Regions from separate parts of the Homo sapiens genome. Here all the other regions are linked to region 2. The links come from fine-mapping of genetic effects on gene expression. A gene starts in region 2. Each other region holds a variant in brackets. All regions are shown on one strand. Distances are from middle to middle.

Region 1 (5,728 bases), 26 kb before region 2:
TCACATTGTGGGTGATGACGTGGGCCCAGGGGATCCCCTGGCCCCTAAAGGGCAGGCAGGAGCACTGTGCTGTTCCCCAGTAGCCTTCAGACCCCACACCCTGGGTTTTTTCTGCAATGCTGTGCCCTGCTCCCCACTTCTGCCCCTGGAGGGTGGGTAGTAACCCTCAAAGCCAGGCTGAGGAAAAGGTTTCTCACTTACTCTCCCATGTCAGCAAAACATTTTTCTCTTGGGAATTCTTTTGAAAACTGCTTCCGCATCCTGATAACTCCGCGTCTAAATGCCATTTGAGAGATTCACTTCCCCCTTATTTGGGGGAAGAAACTGGGAAGGGCTGTCCAAGCTTTCAGCCTATAGCTGTTTCTTACCAGGTTTGTGGACAACAGACAAGCGATTTTTGAAGCATCTGGGTAGATCTGGGCAGTGAATGCATTTTCGAGGCCACTTAGGAAGGGGAGGCCCGCTCAGAAACAGGGGTGATGGTTCGGGCCCTGTTTTGTCTTGGAGGGTCACTGAGGGCTCAGGAAACCATGGCTTCCACCGGGAAAAGGCAAGGGCAGGTGTGGGTGACCTCTGGAGCCATCAGGAGGCTTTCATTGGGAAGATGTAGGGGTCGACATTGTACCAGAGGCAGAGCCTCATGCCACTGCGGAGAATGCTGCAGGGAGGACGGAGTCCCCAGCACCATGCACCTGCCTGCTGGAGTAGCCTGACCCCTTGTTTAGGGTGTCAGGCTGAGGCTGGGGGACCTTTTGTAGGGAAGGCCAGTTCCTACTCCGGGGTGGAGGTGGGAATTGGCCCAAAAGACCTCCCAGTTCTAAAGTGAATTCCAAGTGGTTCTGGGCAACTGACCCCCCAAGTGATCTAAGACAGATGACTTGTGACTTTAAAGCTGTCCCCAAGTGAGCATCCTTCACAGGCCCTTGGTTGCTCTCTTGTTCATCTGTCTTATGTTTGGGAAATTTATCTTCCTGGTGCCGGAAGCACTTCTCTTTGATGGTGAGAGGAGCATTCCCCAAACTCATCCTGGTTGCTGGAGAATTTGATGAAAACAACAGGTTGAGAAGTTTTACCCATAGATTGCCTGGAAGTCGGTCTGTTGGGGCCTCCCCGCTCACATTGTCCCTTCTAGCCCCTGACCGCCTTTCCTTTCCCTTTGGCCAGGTCTGTGACGAGCCCCACCCACTGCTGGTAAAGGAGATGATCCAGCACTGTGTGAATGCCAACATTGACGAAGCCTACAAGGTTGGCCTCCTTCCCCCCGTCCTGGCAGAGGAACCGCTCACTTCTTGGGCAGAGGAGAGCGGGAGCCCTTCTGGTACCAGGGACATTATACACATCACTCCATTCATTCTTGAAATCTTACTTGGGAGACTGAGGCAGGAGGATTTGTTGAGCCTTGGAGGTCAAGGCTGCAGTGAGCTGTGATTGCGCCACTGTACCCCAGCCTGGGTGATGGTGAGACCCTGTCTCAGGAAAAAAAAAAAATTATTAATATCATGCTATGTGTTAATCTGTCTAGGAACTGGAAAAAAAAAATTATGCTAGGAGTTGGGTGCACTTTACTGATGAGAAAACTGATTCAGAGGCTGAATTCCTTGTCCTAAATCACTGTGTTTGTTTATTTATTTATTTATTTATTTATGTAGAAACAGGGTCTTACTCTGTTGCCCAGGCCGGAATGCACTGGCGCGGTCACAGCTCACTGTAGCCTCTACCTCTCAGGCTCAGGCGATCCTCCCACCTCAGCCTCCCAAGTAGCTGGGACTACAGGCACATGTCACTATGCCCAGCCCTAAGTCATGGTTTAAAAGCAGTAGAACTAGAATTCAAAATGGTGTTTTTCTCCTGTAATTATATCCTCTGCAGGAGAAATTTGTCAGCCAAAGTCAGGAGGAAAGACCAGCCTAGCTCCTTCTCCAGGGAAGCCATCTTCTCTCCAGTTAAGGGGAAGTGTCCCCATCCATTCTCATAGGCACAGGCATTCTGGGATCCAGCAGCCCCCAGCTAGCCAGGAGAGGAGGGAGCAGGAAGATTCTAGCCTCACAATGGGACTGAGTGCTGTGAGCAGATTCCAGCAGATGTGGCTGGGGTTCAGGCGACCTCAAGCCACATGGGTGTGGTGTGGTTGGTGTGGTTCAAGGTCATTGATCCAGTCATGGTTTCCCTCTGCCTACCCCCTAACAAACTAGGTTGGAAGTTGACTGGGTTTAGGGCATAGTTCCACCCAATGTGAAACCGGAGTGCAAGGCGGGGAGACTGAGCAGAGACCCAGGCCCAGGGTCCCTGAGTAGACCTGAAGAAAGCCTTCAGATTTGTGGGCACAGAGCTTCTCTGCCTCCTGAATTCACCCCAAGATGCCAAAACAAAGGCAAAAAGGCCTGCCTCCAGACGCTGCAGCCTGGGTGGGGCAGGGTGGGTGGGAAGCAGGAGGCTGGGATTACCCAGTCAGGGTGTGCTCCAGGCTCGTCCTGCAGAGGTTGCATTGGGACTGCAGCTGGATGAAGCTAGCAGATGAATGGTCTGCTTTTTCCACTTTGCTATACCTAGTCATCAGATTAATAAAGCATTTTAAGAGCTCCGGATCAAGAGATTACATGGGTGTGGTAGTAGACCATTTTGCAACACAGCTTAACACATTTGC[G/A]ATAGGCTGGGCTCAGTGGCTCATGCCTGTAATCCCAGCACTTTTGGAGGTCGAGGCAGGAGGATTGCTTGAGGCCGGGAACTTGGGACCAGCCTGGGCAATATAGCAAGACTCTTATCTTTATATTACTGAAAAAAAAATATTTAAGCAAAACAACAATACATTTGCAATGTTATCTCTCTATCTGCCATGAAAATCAGTTAAGGTACCCCCATGTGACCTGAAGGGTGGGCCCCACCAGCTGTGGTGAGTCTCAAAATCACATGTCTTCTTACAGTTTAAAGTGGTAAGCAGCCTTTTCTGTCTCCTTTGTCTAGATTCTTGCTCACTTGTGGCATCTGGGCTACTCACCAGAAGATATCATTGGCAACATCTTTCGAGTGTGTAAAACTTTCCAAATGGCAGAATACCTGAAACTGGAGTTTATCAAGGTCGGTGAGAATGTAGAAATGCCTCTGTCCTCAAGAATGTGGCCCATAGTGGCCGGGTGCTGTGGGCCACACCTGTAATCCCAGCACTTTGGGAGGCCGAGGTGGGCAGATCACCTGAGGTCAGGAGTTCGAGACCAGCCTGGCCAACGTAGTGAAAGCCTCTGTCTACTAAAAATACAAAAATTAGCTGGGCATGGCTGGGCGTGGTGGCTCATGCCTGTAATCCCAGCACTTTGGGAGGCCGAGGTGGGCGGATCACCTGAGGTCAGGAGTTTGAGACCAGCCTGGCCAACATGGCAAAGCCCCATCTCTACTAAAAATACAAAACTTAGCTGGGTGTGGTGGCAAGCGCCTATAATCCCAGCTACTTGGGAGGCTGAGGGAGGAGGATCGCTTGAACCTGGGAGGTGGAGGTTGCAGTGAGCCAAGATCGCACCACTGCACTCCAGCCTGGGCAGCAGAGCGAGACTGTCTCAAAACAAAAAAAAAAGACTGTGGGCCCTGGCTTCGCTTTCTCTGCTCACAGGCCTGGCATCTAGAAGGTGCTCAGTGTTTCCCAACTGCAGTGGGAGGGAGGCTGTGTCTTAGTTCCTTTGAGTTACTATAAAGGAATACCAGAGACTGGGTAATGTAGAAAGAAAAGAGGTTGATTTGGCTCACAGTTCTGCAGGCTGTACATGTAGCATGATGCCAGCATCTGCTTCTAGGGAGGGGTTCAGGCTGCTTCTGCTCATGTTGGAAGGGGAAGTGGGAGCCTGTGCATGCAGAGACCACCTGTTGAGAACGGAGGGAGGTGCCAGGCTCATTTGAACAGCCAGCTCTCCAGGGACCTAATTGATCCAGAACTCACTCACTACCTTGGGGTGGGCACCAAGCCATTCACGTGGGATCTTCCTCATGACCCAAACATCCCCACATTGGGGACCAAATTCCAAATGAGATTGGAAGGGGACAGACGTCCAAACTAGATCAACGTGGCTGATTGTCCTGAGGACCAAGTTTGTTTCACACAGTTCTGATTTTCTTCATTCAAGGCTCTCTTGTGTATTGACTGATTGATTGATTTTTCAAGGTTAGATTAATTGAGGTTTAATTTACATAGAGTAAAATTCAGCCTGTTAGGTACAGGACAAACGCACTCAGTCATGCAAACACTATCACCATCAGGATGCAGAATCTGTCATCCCAGAACAACTCATGTGTCCCTTTGAAGCCAGCCCCCTCCCCGACTACCACTTGGAAACTACCGATGTAGTTTCTGTTTCATGGGATACAGTTTTCCAGAATATCATATAAATGGGATCATGTAGAACTTAGCCTTGTGAGTTTGGCTTCTTTCTTTCACTGTAGCAGAAATGCCTTTCAGATGTGTCCACGCTGGTACTTCTATCCATGAGTCAGTCCGTGTTATCACTGAGAAGTAATCCATCCTGTGCGTGTACCACAGTTTGCTTATCTGTCCATCAGCTGGAGGACATTTGGGTTTACAGATTGTGGTGACTGTGAATAAAGCCAGTGTAAACATTTGCATATATGGATTAGTGTGAATGCAAATGTTAAGTTTTTCTTTTTCCCAAGTAAGTTCCCAGGGGTGAAATTGCCTGGGAAAATGATAAGTGTATGTTTTACTCGATAAGGAACTGCCAAACGGTTTTCCGAAGTGGCTGCAGCACGTGCATTCCCACCAGCATTCCGGAGGATCCTCAACCTAGCCACCACATGGAGTGCTCAGTTTGGTTTTTAAGCCATTCTAATAGGTGTGTAATGACCGGATGCAGTGGCTTACACCTGTAATCCCAGCTACTCGGGCGGCTGAGGGAGGAGGATCGCTTGAACCCAGGAGGTGGAGGTTGCAGTGAGCTGAGATCACACCCCTGCACTACAGCTTGGGCGACAAGAGTGAGACTCCATCTTAAAAAAAAAAAAAAAAAAAAAACCAATAACAACAACAACAAAATAACCTAATAGGCATGTGATGAGATCTCATTGTGCCTTTAATTTGCATTTCCCTAATTACTATGCTGAACATTTAATCATGTGCTCGTTTGCCATCCAGAATCTTCTTTGATGAAACATCTGTTCATATATACCCATTTTTTAAAATTTTTACATTTTTTATTTTAATTGTACTGTATTTTTTGTTTAGAGATCATGTTAAGACCGGCCAATTTTTATATTTTTGGTGGAGACGGGGTGTCCCCGTGTTGCCAAGGCTGGTCTTGAACTCCCGGGCTCAAGTGATCCTCCCGCCTCGGCCTCCCAAAGTGCTAGAATTACAGGTGTGAGCCACTGCGCCTGGCCTACCTTTTTTATGTTTTTGAGAGACAGGGTCTTGCTCTGTCACCCAGGCTGGAGTGCAGTGGTGCGATCATAGTTCACTGCAGCCTCAACCTTCCATGCTCAAGCAATCCTCCCACCTCAGGCTCCCGAGTAGCTGGGACTGCAGGCATGTGCCACTACACTTGGGTCATTTTTATTTTCTTTTTTTCGTAGAGTTTGGGTGTTGCTATGTTGCCCAGGCCCAACTCTGGGCAAGTGATCCTCCTGCCTCAGCCTCCCAGAATGCTGGGATTACAGGTGTGAGCTACTGCTCCAGGTCTAAATCTACCCATTTTTTAATTGGGTTGTTTGATTTTTATTACTGAATTTATTT
Region 2 (5,728 bases):
CAGGCTTGTGAGGTTGGAGCAACTTGTCTTGCAGGAGGGCTCATGGGACCAAATCTAGCCTCTGCCTGAGAGCCCCCCGCCTCAGTTTTCTCATCTATAAAATGAGGTCGGGCTGGGTACAGGGACTCACACCTGTAATCCCAATACTTTGGGAGGCTGAGACAGGAGGATCACTTGAGTTTGAGACCAGCTTGGCCAACATGGTGAAACCCTGTTTCTACTAGAAATACAAAAATTAGCCAGGCGTGGAGGTGCAAGCCTGTAATTCCAGCTACTTGGGAGGCTGAGGCATGAGAATCACTTGAACTCAGGAGGCAGTGAGTTGCAGTGAGCTGAGATCACGCCAGTGCACTCCAGCATGGGAGACAGAGTGAGACTCCATCTCAAAATAATAATAATAATAATAATAAATTAAATAAATGAATAAATAAAATGGGATCAGGCTGGGCGTGGTGGCTGACGCCTGTAATCTCAACACTGGGAGGCCGAGACAGGAGGATCGCTTGAGGCCAGGAGTTCGAGACCAGCATGGACGATGTAACAAGGCCCTGTCTCTACAAAAAAATGAAAAAATTAGGCAGGCGCAGTGGCACATGCCTGTGGTTCCAGCTACTTGGGACACTGAGGCAAGAGAATTGCTTGAGCCCAGGAGTTGGAAGCTGCAGTGAGCCAAGATCACACCACTGAACTCCAGCCTGGGTGACAGAGCAAGACCCCATCTCTAAAAACAAAAAATGAAATTTAACAAACAGTCATGTGTCTGCCCCCAGACTGAATACATCCTGCGCTGTTGGCCGGGTGCGGTAGTTCACACCTGTAATCCCAACACTTTGGGAGGCTGAGGCGGGCAAATCATCTGAGGTCAGGAGTTCAAGACCAGCCTGGCCAACATGGTGAAACCCTGTCTCTACTAAAAATAAAAAATTAGGCCAGGCACGGTGGCTCACACCTGTAATCCCAGCACTTTGGGAGGCCGAGGCAGGCAGATCACAAAGTCAGGAGATTGAGACCATCCTGGCTAACATGGCGAAACCCCGTCTCTACTAAAAATACAAAAAATTAGCCGGTCGTGGTGGCAGGCGCCTCTAGTCTCAGCTACTCGGGAGGCTGAGGCAGGAGAATGGCATGTACCCGGGAGGTGGAGCTTGCAGTGAGCCAAGATTGCACCACTGCACTCCCAGCCTGGGAGACAGAGCAAGACTGTCTCCAAAAAATAAAAAATAAATAAAAAATAAAAAATTAGCCAGGTGTGGTAGCACGTGCCTGTAGTCCCCAGCTACTTGGAAGGGTAAGGCAGGAGAACTGCTTGAACCTGGGAGGTGGAGGTTGCAGTGAGCCGAGATCACGCCACTGCACTCCAGCCTGGACAACAGAGTGAGACTCCGTTTAAAAAAATTCTGTGCTCTCTCTCTGTCTCTGTCTCCCTTTGTGTCTCTGTCTCGCTCTCACTTTCACTCTCCCATCCAGGTTCTGAAAGCAGGTGGGCTGAGGTGGAGGGAGCGGAGGGTGGACCCTCTGAGGCCCCCAGGGGCCGGCAGGGCTGGGCGGGGTGGGGAGTGGGGGCTGCCACAGACCACGGTTCTGCAGAGGCCAAAATAGCACTAAAGGGAAGTGGGCAGTTTTCATATGAACAACGATTGCCAAGAGCTGGCTTCGGGGAAGTTCTCGGGGCTGGGCTGGAGGAGCTACAGTGTCTGAATCCCGCCTGGAAGGACGCTCGAGACCACCCTGCCGGTTCTCCCAGCCTTCTCCGAGCTGAGCTGTGGTTGGGGACACTGGGGTTGGGGAGGGGGCAGCCTGGCTTGAAGCCCTGGATGGCTTTATCCACTGGACTCTGCTCTGGGGTCTGTTGGTTTTTTCATTTAGTTTTTAATTATATTTTTTTATTTTTATTTTTTAAAGAGATGGGAGTCTCACTATGTTGCTCAGGCTGGTCTCCAGCTCCTGACTTCAAATGATCCTCCCGCCTTGGCCTCCCCAAATGCTGGGATTACAGGTTGAGCCACCGTGCCCGGCTGGTCCTGTTGCTTTTTCCAAATAACTCTGGGCTTCAAATGAGCCTAGCTGGGAGGGAGAGAGGGAGGCGGGCGGGTGCAGGAGGGGCCTGAGCAGCCCTGGTCCCAGGGACAGAGTTGAGGGCCAGGTAGGGGGCTGGGCAGGGAGGCAGTGGGGGTTCTTCACCTGACCTGGGGCAAGACCTGGGCCCTGGCCTGTAATCCCACCGTTTTCCCCTGACCTGTGTAGGGGGTTACAGTCCCATTTCACGGATGAGGAAACCGAGGCTCCCAGGCCAGGGCAGCCACTGTTTTGGCTCTCGGCCACTTACTTCACCAGTCTCTGGCAATGATGGGACCACCCTGGGATGTCCCAAGGCTACACAGGCTGGACAGGGGAAGGCGAGGGCAAGAGAGTGGCCAGAAGCCCAGAAACAAACTGACCCCTGAAGTGCCACAGAGCCTGGTGCCAGGGTGAGAGTGGGGCTGCGGGAGGGGGCGCCAGGCATCCAGGCCTCTTCCCACCCCACCCAGTGGGGCCAGGAGCTCCTGGGGGATGGGGGACAGCCTGAGGACTGAGGCACCCCTGGGAAAGGCTTACCTGAGAGTCCAGGGTTCCTCACCACGGCCGCCCCATCCTGAGCCCGCACACCTGCCCAAGCTGATGCCAACACCACTGACACTGGCGGGCGGGCAGGGCGGGCTTCCTGCCAGCCACTGAATCATCCGTACATCCGCCGCACTGCCGGACAGGCTCAGCTATGAAGAGGGCGGTGGGGGGAAGGGAGGGGAGACGGGGGAAGGAGGCGGGAGAGAGAGAGAGAAGAGAAACAAAGTGAGAGGGAGAAAGAGAAGAAAGAGAGATAGGACCGGGCGAGGTGGCTCACACCTGTAATCCAAAAACTTTGGGAGGCCGAGGCGGGTGGATCACGTAAGGTCAAGAGTTTAAGACCAGCCTGGCCAACATGGTGAAACCCCGTCTCTATTAAAAATACAAAATTAGCTGGGCATGGTGGCATGTGTCTGTAATTCCAGCTACTCGGGAGGCTGAGGCAGGAGAATCGTTTGAACCTCAGAAGCAGAGGTTGCAGTGAGCCGAGATCGCACCACTGCACTCCAGCCTGGGTGACAGAGGGAGACTCCGTCTCAAAAAACAGAAAGAAAAAGAGAGAGACACAGCAGAGAGACACAAGAGAACAGGAAAATATGGACACACACTAAACACACACATAAACACAAAAAGTCACACAGAGAGGAAGAGAGATACACTCCAATAGACAGGGAGCAAGATAATGAAACTGAGGTGCTCCTGCAGATGGCAGATATGGAGACACACATACGCTAAAAAGACACACACAGGCAGAAATTCACACCCATGGGCCGGGCGCGGTGGCTCATGCCTGTAATCCCAGCACTTTGGGAGGCCAAGGCAGGCAGGTCATGAAGTCAGGGGTTCAAAACCAGCCTGACCAACATGGTGAAACCCCATATCTACCAAAAATACAAAAATTATCTGGGTGTGGTGGCGGGTGCCTGTAATCCCAGCTACTCGGGAGGCTGAGGCAGGAGAATTGCTTGAACCCAGGAGGTGGAGGTTGCAGTGAGCCAAGATAGCGCCACTGCACTCCAGCCTGGGTGACAGAGCAAGACTTCATCTCAAAAAAAAAAAAAAAAAGAAGAAGACACACACAGGCAGAAATTCATACCCATGGGCCAGGCACGGTGGCTCATGCCTGTAATCCCAACACTTTGGGAGGCTGAAGCAGGAGAATCACCTGAGGTCTGGAGTTCAAGACCAGCCTGGCCAACATGGTGAAACCCCATCTCTACAAAAAATTTAAAAATTAGCTGGGCATGAGATGGACCAAGACACACACAGAGAGACACACAGAAAGATACAGAGAGCCACAGACTGTCAGAGACACACACAGATGGGGAGAGAGCAAGAAACAGGGAGATAGAGGCCAGGTGCAGTGGCTTGCACCTGCAATCCTAACATTTTTGGAGGCTGAGGCAGGAGGATCGCTTGAGAACAGGAATTTGAGACCAGCCTGGACAACAGAACGAGACCCCATCTCTAAAAAAATTTTTTTAATTAGCTGGGTGTGGTGGCACACACCTGTAGTCCCAGTGTTTTGGGAGGCCAAAACGGGAGGATTTCTTGAGCCCAAGAGTTGGAGGCTGCAGTGAGCCGTGACTCTGCCACTGCACTCCAGCCTGGGGGACAGCAAGACCCTGTCTGTCTGTAAAAACAATAAATAGGCCGGGCGTGGTGGCTCACATCTGTAATCCCAGCACTTTGGGAGGCCAAGGCAGGTGGATCACCTTATTTAGGTCGGGAGTTTGAGACCAGCCTGGCCAAAATGGTGAAACCCCATCTCTACTAAAAATACAAAAATTTGCCGGGTGTGATGGTGGGTGCCTGTAATCCCAGCTACTTGGGAGGCTGAGGCAGGAGAATCACTTGAGCCCAGAAGGCGGAGTTTGCAGTGAGCCAAGATCGTGCCACTGCACTACAGCCTGGACAACAGAGCGAGACTCCATCTCAAAAAAACAAAACAAAAACAAAAAAACCCAAAAAACACAACAAAAAAATTTAAAATAATAATAATTATTATTTAATTAATAGCTCAATGGCCTTGGGCAGCTGTTTAATGGTCAATAGCACAAGGCAGTCCACCCACTTGTGGGATGTGGCTTTATTGACCTCAGGTGCCAGAGCATCCTGGCCTCCACAGGGAACTATCTCACTCGGTCCTCATGTCTGTGTGGATGGCAGCCACGGTGTCCACCCCAGGGCTGGGCACAGGAGCACCGCTGGGCAGGAGTGGGCTGTGGTCCCTCTGCCTGTGCTATGAGCCGTTCTCTGCACCCCGATGCCAGGAGCCTCATCTGTGCAGTGGGGTGATGAGACCCCCAAGGCTGGGGTGGAGCAGGGCTCTCCTTCCTTCTCCCACCCTTTAGCGCCCTCGCTGTCTGCAGCCTCTGACACTCGTGCCGTCCACTCCTCCACCTGTCTTTGGTCACTTGTTCCATCTGCCCTGCCCTCGTGGCCTCTGCAGGGGTCTCTCTGTCCCTGCCCTGCCCACCTACATCCCGCATCCTTTGTCTCTGTGTCCATCTGTCTCATCCTCTGGGACTCTTGCTGTCTGACCCTCTGTCTCTATTCCTCGCCTGCTTTTTTTTTTTTTTTTTGAGACAGGGTCTCACTCGGTCCAGAGGTGAAGCTGAATTTGAACCCAGACCCCAAAGCCTGGCTTCCTCACTGGGACCCCCTGACTGGCTCCTCCTCACACAATGGGAACAAGCCTGCAACAGTTTCCCTTCAGCCCCAGACTGTGCACCTGGATAGAGGTTACCTGCTGTTCTTTCCCCTTTTTTAAAATTTTTTTTGAGATGGGGTCTCACCCGGTCACTCAGGCTGGAGTGCAGTGGTGCAATCTCAGCTCACTGCAACCTCTGCCTCCCAGGCTCAAACGATCCTCCCACCTCAGCCTCCAGAGTTAGCTGGAACCCCAGGTGCATGCCACCACGCCCAGCTAATTTTTGTATTTTTTTTTTTTTGTAGAGACAAGGTCTCACTATGTTGCCCAGGCTGGTCTTGAACTCCTGGCCTTAAGCGATCCTCCATCCTCAGCCTCCCAAAGTGCAGGGATTACAGGCGTGAGGCCACCGCGCCTGGTCCCATTGAACCCGGTGTTTATCCCACCTGCTGGAGACACCAGGGAAGAGCA
Region 3 (5,728 bases), 28 kb after region 2:
TAGAGGAACTGTGGAACTGAGATCAGGCCAGACTTGACCCCTGATTGAGCACAGGAAGCCCAGGTGAATGCCAGTAAGATGACGGGGCACTGCTAAAAATGCACTAGGACAGGAAGGTGGCTCTGGCTTTGGAGAAGATAGAAAAATCTAGTTTGGGGCAAACCATTTTTGAAAAGTTGGCACGTTACCAAATGGCAGCACCTAACAGCTAACTGGTGATATAATTCTGGAGCAAAGATACACCAAAGCCCACCAAACTGTTCAACTCACTCGTGCCTCACAAAACCACCAGTGGCTTAATACTCTAGACTTTTCAATAATTACCAAAGTAGTCCTAAATATTCCCATACCCTACCTGATGTAGTCCCTTCTACAGGTCTTAAGCACTTTTTACCTTTTCATCCCATTCAATGAAATCACTAGGGGGCAGCAGGGCTGGGCCATGGAGGTAGACCTCATTCAAGCTAGCACTGGTAAAGTGTCCACTGTGTGACAGTCACTTGAGACACATCACATAGGATGTGAGTACCCCAGAGTACACATCACATAGGATGACATCACATCACATCACATAGGATGACACAGATCTGTTACCCACCGATTCATTTACAAAATCAAATGTCAGAAAACTCTGAGCTAAAATGTCTGCCACCTTTCACTAGATTCAAGTTTGGGGGACTACTACCTAAATAAATAAGCTGTGTTTCGTGAAATTCAGTACATTCCTACACAGATCAATAACAACACATGGGAGAACAGGTTCACTTGACACCTTAGCTAGCTTGATGTAGGACCTCTGCCAAATTACCTCTGTACCTATGTTTTCTTGTCTGTTATATTTCAATCTTGATTTTATAAGTTTAAAACTGACCATAAAAACATTTCCTAAGTACCAAGTGCTATATAATTCTGCCATGCTCCTGGGTAGACCCAACAGGCCTGAGGCTACACTGGGCTGGCAGGAGTGCGTGTAGAACAGGAACAGATCAGCAGAGCGTGCCAATTCAGGACACCTGAAGTCAAGGTCTGTGCTGCAAACTCCCTGCCACTACTGAGCAGTGTCCTTTCTACTGCCCATTAGGGACAGTCTATTGATTATGAAAGATTAAAGTAGTCAATTACAGCCTCAGTAATTTAGGAAACCCTACTTTCGGCTCCAAGTGTGACTAAAATCCTTGACAGGCAAATCACTTTTCCTTACTCAAATCAACCACGTATCTGCATGTCTATGAAGGGTGGAGAGAATGTAGAGAAGGCACAAACCTAAGACTCGGTTTCTGCCCTCAAGGAGCTGATAATTTGGAAAGGAGAAATCACGTCACAAGCAAAGGACTGCAGAAAATCTGGAAGATAGCAATGAGAACAGTTTCACCAGGGTGGAGCAGTTGGGAGCCAGGATATGCAGCACAGCAGAGAGCAACAGAAGTGGGACTCCACTTCCAGATGGCAGATGGGGCCAATACTGAACCCTTAGGGTGAGCCAGAAAAGATCTGTAGGTGTCAAAGGAGACTGAGAGAGGGTAACTATAAAAAGAAGCCAATGTACAGAGTAGATGTTATGAGGGTAGGGATGTATCCAGTAAGTAGATGCAACAGAAAGTTGAGTGCTCAAGGCTGGGCATGGGCATGTGGCTCCGGCCTGTAGTCCCAGCACTTTGGGACTGTGATTGTGCAACTGCACTCCAGCCTGGGCAACAGGGCAAGACTATGCCTCCAAATTATGAGACACATCTCATTTAAACCTCCCAACAGAGGAGTTTCTAGCTCTCATTTGGGGAAAGTAGGGCCCAGAAGGGTAAAGTAGTGTAAACCAAAGAAAATGACTGGCCGGACGCCATGGCTCACACCTGCAATCCCGGCACTTCGGGAGGCCAAGGTGGGGAGATCACTTGAGCTCAGGAGTTTGAGACCAGCGTGGGGAACACGGCAAAACCCCATATCTACAAACAGGTAACATTTGGGTTTTTGACAATCATCAAAAATGGTTAAGCTTTCAAAGGTCAAGCCTTTGATAAATACCATTTATACTACCTATTATAAACCATAGTAGTATAGAGAAGAGTGGTCACTTAAAGAGTAGGTAATGGGTATACAGGTCACTATATTATGCTTTGGTTCGTGTTCTAAATTTTCTACATTTTTCTGTAATGTTTTGCATATTCAAACAATCCAACTATACAAAGTCATCTTTGCAAAAACTGGGAAAAACTGAACACTGGGTACTGGAAAAACTGTTGGTTAAAGAAAAAAAAGAAGCCCTTATCTGTTAGAAACATACTCAAGTATGAAAAGTATGTAAGAGGCCGGGTGTGGTGGCTCACACCTATAATCCCAGCACTTTGGGAGGCTGAAGCGGATGAATCACAAGGTCAGGAGTTCAAGACCAACCCGGCCAACATGGTGAAACCCCATCTCTACTAACAGTACAAAAATCAGCTGGGCACAGTGGCAGGTGCCTGTAATCCCAGCTACTCGGGAGGCTGAGGGGTGGTGGCGGAGGCTGCAGTGAGCTGAGATCGCGCCACTGAGCTCTAGCCTGGGAGGCAGAGTGAGACTCCATCTCAAAAAAAAAGGCCGGGCTCGGTGGCTCACACCTGTAATCCCAGCACTTTGGGAGGCCGAGGCAGGCAGATTACCTGAGGTCGGGAGTTCGAGACCAGCCTGACCAACATGTAGAAACCCTCTGTTTCTGCTCTATCTCTGCTAAAAATACAAAATTTGCCAGGTGTGGTGGCACATGCCTGTAATCCCAGCTACTCGGGAGGCTGAGGCAGGAGAAT[C/T]GCTTGAACCCAGGAGGCGGAGGTTGTGGTGAGCCGAGATAGTGCCACTGCATTCCAGCCTGGGCAACAAGAGTAAAACTCTGCCTCAGAAAACAAAACAAAACAAAAAACAAAAAAAACAAAGAAAGAATATATAAGATACATCTACTACGGTAGCCATAAAAATTGAAACAAAAATTGCTCTAAAGTATGTAATATTTACCAACACAAAGATGAGGATTAAAATTTAAAAAAATAAGAACTATTTTAGAAGGATAGGTGACTAGGATTAGCCTTAAATTATCCTAGCCCACACCTCCACCCAAAAGTAGGGAAGATAGATGTAACAGAAATAGCCAAAATGTTTATGAGGTTAAAACTGGGAAAGGAATGGAGTTGTTTAGTGGGTATAGAGTTTCTGTTTGGATTATGAAAAGGTTCTGGAACTAGATAGTGGCAATGGTTACACAACACTATGAAGGTACTCCATGCCACTAAATTGTACACTTAAAAATGGTTGAGGCTGGGCGTGGTGGCTCATGCTTGCAATCCCAGCACTTTAGGAGGTCAAGGCAGGAGTATCCCTTGAGGCTAGTTCAAGACCAGCTTAGGCAACAAAGGGAGACCCTGTCTCTATTAAAAAAACAATTATTTAGCTCAAGCAGCAGTTCTTTACATTTGTGCAGTCTCTGAAGAAGGCCAAGATGTAATCCTTTGGTCCTATTCTGGCCTGGAGGGCCACACCTTTCTTCCACTCAGCAGTCCCAGAGACTTAAGAGCTGCTGTATCACTGCTGCTGAGGCTTCTTTCGAAGGTCCTCACTGAAGCTGCTCAGCCCTTCCTCCTAAGATGAAGTTTCAGAGCCTGGCCATCCCCACTATCACCTTCTTCTTCATAGGCTCCAGTGTGCTGATGCCTTAAAATATGGTTCCCAGAATGGTTCACAATATTCCACATTTATAAAGCAAAGACCTATACTGATCTCACAACAGGTCTTTGTGTTAATACAAACGAAGGCAGGGGCATCAAACTACATTACTCATGCTTTCCCACCATGCACTTGAAGTATTTAAAATAGGAAGAAAAATCACAGCTTCAATTAGGAATATCCTTGGTAAAGCAGTAAAAATGAATCGTGACCCACTTTTTAGTACCCTATGTTATGAAACACGCAAAGCACTTCTGCTGCATACACAAGCATGATGGCTGCTGCAGGAAAAGCACTTGAGCTACAAGCTGAACTAGCTGTTCTTTCTATAGAACAAACTATGGTTAATTCAGACATGGGTACTAAGTTTTTTAAAAATGAAGTTAAGTCTGTTCCTTGAAGTAAAAGAACAGTATTTGGGTTTTTTGTTTTGAGACAGGGTCTTGCTCTGTTGCCCAGATTTGAGTGCTGTGGTGCAATCACTGCTCACTGCAGCCTCAATCTCCAGGACTCAAGTGATCCTCTAGCCTCAGCCTCCCAAGTAGGTGGGACTATAGGCATATACCACCACACCAGCTAATTTTATTTTTGAAAAGACCAGGTCTGGACATATTGTCCAGACTGGGCTAGAGTGATCCTCCTGCCATGGCCTCCCAAAGTGTTGGGATTACAGACATGAGCCACAGCACCTGGCCAAAATAACAGTATTTGTTGCCAATGGTAAAATTTAAGCTTTCAAGCAAAAAAGAGTTTCGGAAAACCTGTATCCATCAACATAAGCCTGACAGTCTTTCAATACTCAGAGACTTTTCTAACAGCTATGGTGAATGTGACTTTGATACTGTATAACAAAATGTACCAACATCTGGAACATCTGCATGGCTCTGCCTGGCTCAGTGAACAGGTCCTTTCCAAATCACCAACACCTTACAAATGTATGCACTGGTAAAGGATCCAGTCGGAGTACAAGATAAAGTGACTTTTTTTTTTTTTTTTTGATACAGAGTCTCACCCTGTCGCCCAGGCGGGAGTGCAGTGGCGCAATCTGGGCTCACTGCAAACTCCACCTCCCAGGTTCAAGTGATTCTATGGCTTCAGCCTCCCAAGTAGCTGGGACTACAGGGGCCCACCACCATGCCCAGCTAGTTTTTGTGTTTTTAGTAGAGATGGGGCTTTGCCATGTTAGCCAGGCTGGTCTCAGACTACTGACCTCAGGTAATCCGCCCGCCTTGGCCTCCCAAAGTCCTGGGGTTACAGGAGTGAGCCACCGCGCCCAGCCAAATGATGAACTCTAATGTAAAAGTATGAAGAGTTTATTGATAAGGTTTTAGGTTTCACATTGCAACTAACCTTCATAGAAACTACTGCTTATTGAGTTTTGGTATAGAATCAAATATGAATATCCAGAATTATTTGATTACTCCTCCCATTTCCAACTATTTATCTGTGCAAGGATTGAGCTGCTCCATAAAAGTCAACCAAAGCAACACATTCCAAGAGTGGAGACAGATGCAGGTATGAGAATCCAGCTGTGTTCTATTAAGCCAGACATTTAGAAGGCTCCAAAAATGTGAGTACACAGAAGGCTCCAAAAATGTGAGTATACATGAAAGACAGGAGAAGAATGTGCAGAACAAAGGGAGGTGACGGCCCCCCTAGCCCTGAACTGGAAGGCCATGCTTAACCAGAGACTCATCAACCGTGGAGCAGCCACATACTTGAGCTCCTTCAGAAGGTCCTGATCAAGACGGAAAATCACATAAATCATGACGTGGGGAAACTTCGAAGAACATTCGACTTACACAAAAGAAGTCTTAGACGTACATACAGCTGCCATTAGGTTCTATGAAAATGATGCAATCACACTCATTTCATGCCCGGGTGTGCAGGTCTAATCAGCATGATGTAAAAGCAACCAGGCGACAAATACTCTCCTGAACCTTCCAGGGGAAGCTGGAAGCCAGAGTGTGATCCTGGAAAGACATTCAGAGTCTGCTTTGTACGTTCTAAGCTTCCAGGGAGACTCCTTAAAATTGTGAAG

What was found. PIP is the estimated chance that this variant, and not a neighbour inherited with it, causes the effect.
Region 1: its variant is fine-mapped to the expression of LAT2 in whole blood (INTERVAL, PIP above 0.99).
Region 3: its variant is fine-mapped to the expression of LAT2 in whole blood (TOPMed, PIP above 0.99).

The regions. Positions count from the first base shown.
Region 1 is chr7:74,232,879-74,238,606 of GRCh38, reverse strand. It overlaps RFC2 (replication factor C subunit 2), which reads left to right. Exons shown (of 11, transcript NM_181471.3): 9 at 1,165-1,245; 10 at 2,962-3,075. Among named protein-coding and RNA genes, the nearest start is that of RFC2, 19 kb to the left of the region's middle. The variant G/A (reference allele first, on the strand shown) is at 2,645.
Region 2 is chr7:74,206,956-74,212,683 of GRCh38, reverse strand. LAT2 (linker for activation of T cells family member 2) reads right to left here and starts at 2,678. Exons shown (of 14, transcript NM_032464.3): 1 at 2,596-2,678. RefSeq lists silencers at 1,555-1,644, 2,755-2,804 and enhancers at 1,745-1,864, 3,085-3,194.
Region 3 is chr7:74,178,588-74,184,315 of GRCh38, reverse strand. The region is part of intron 1 of EIF4H (eukaryotic translation initiation factor 4H); the gene reads right to left. Among named protein-coding and RNA genes, the nearest start is that of EIF4H, 7.1 kb to the right of the region's middle. RefSeq lists enhancers at 3,867-4,367, 4,368-4,868. The variant C/T (reference allele first, on the strand shown) is at 2,781.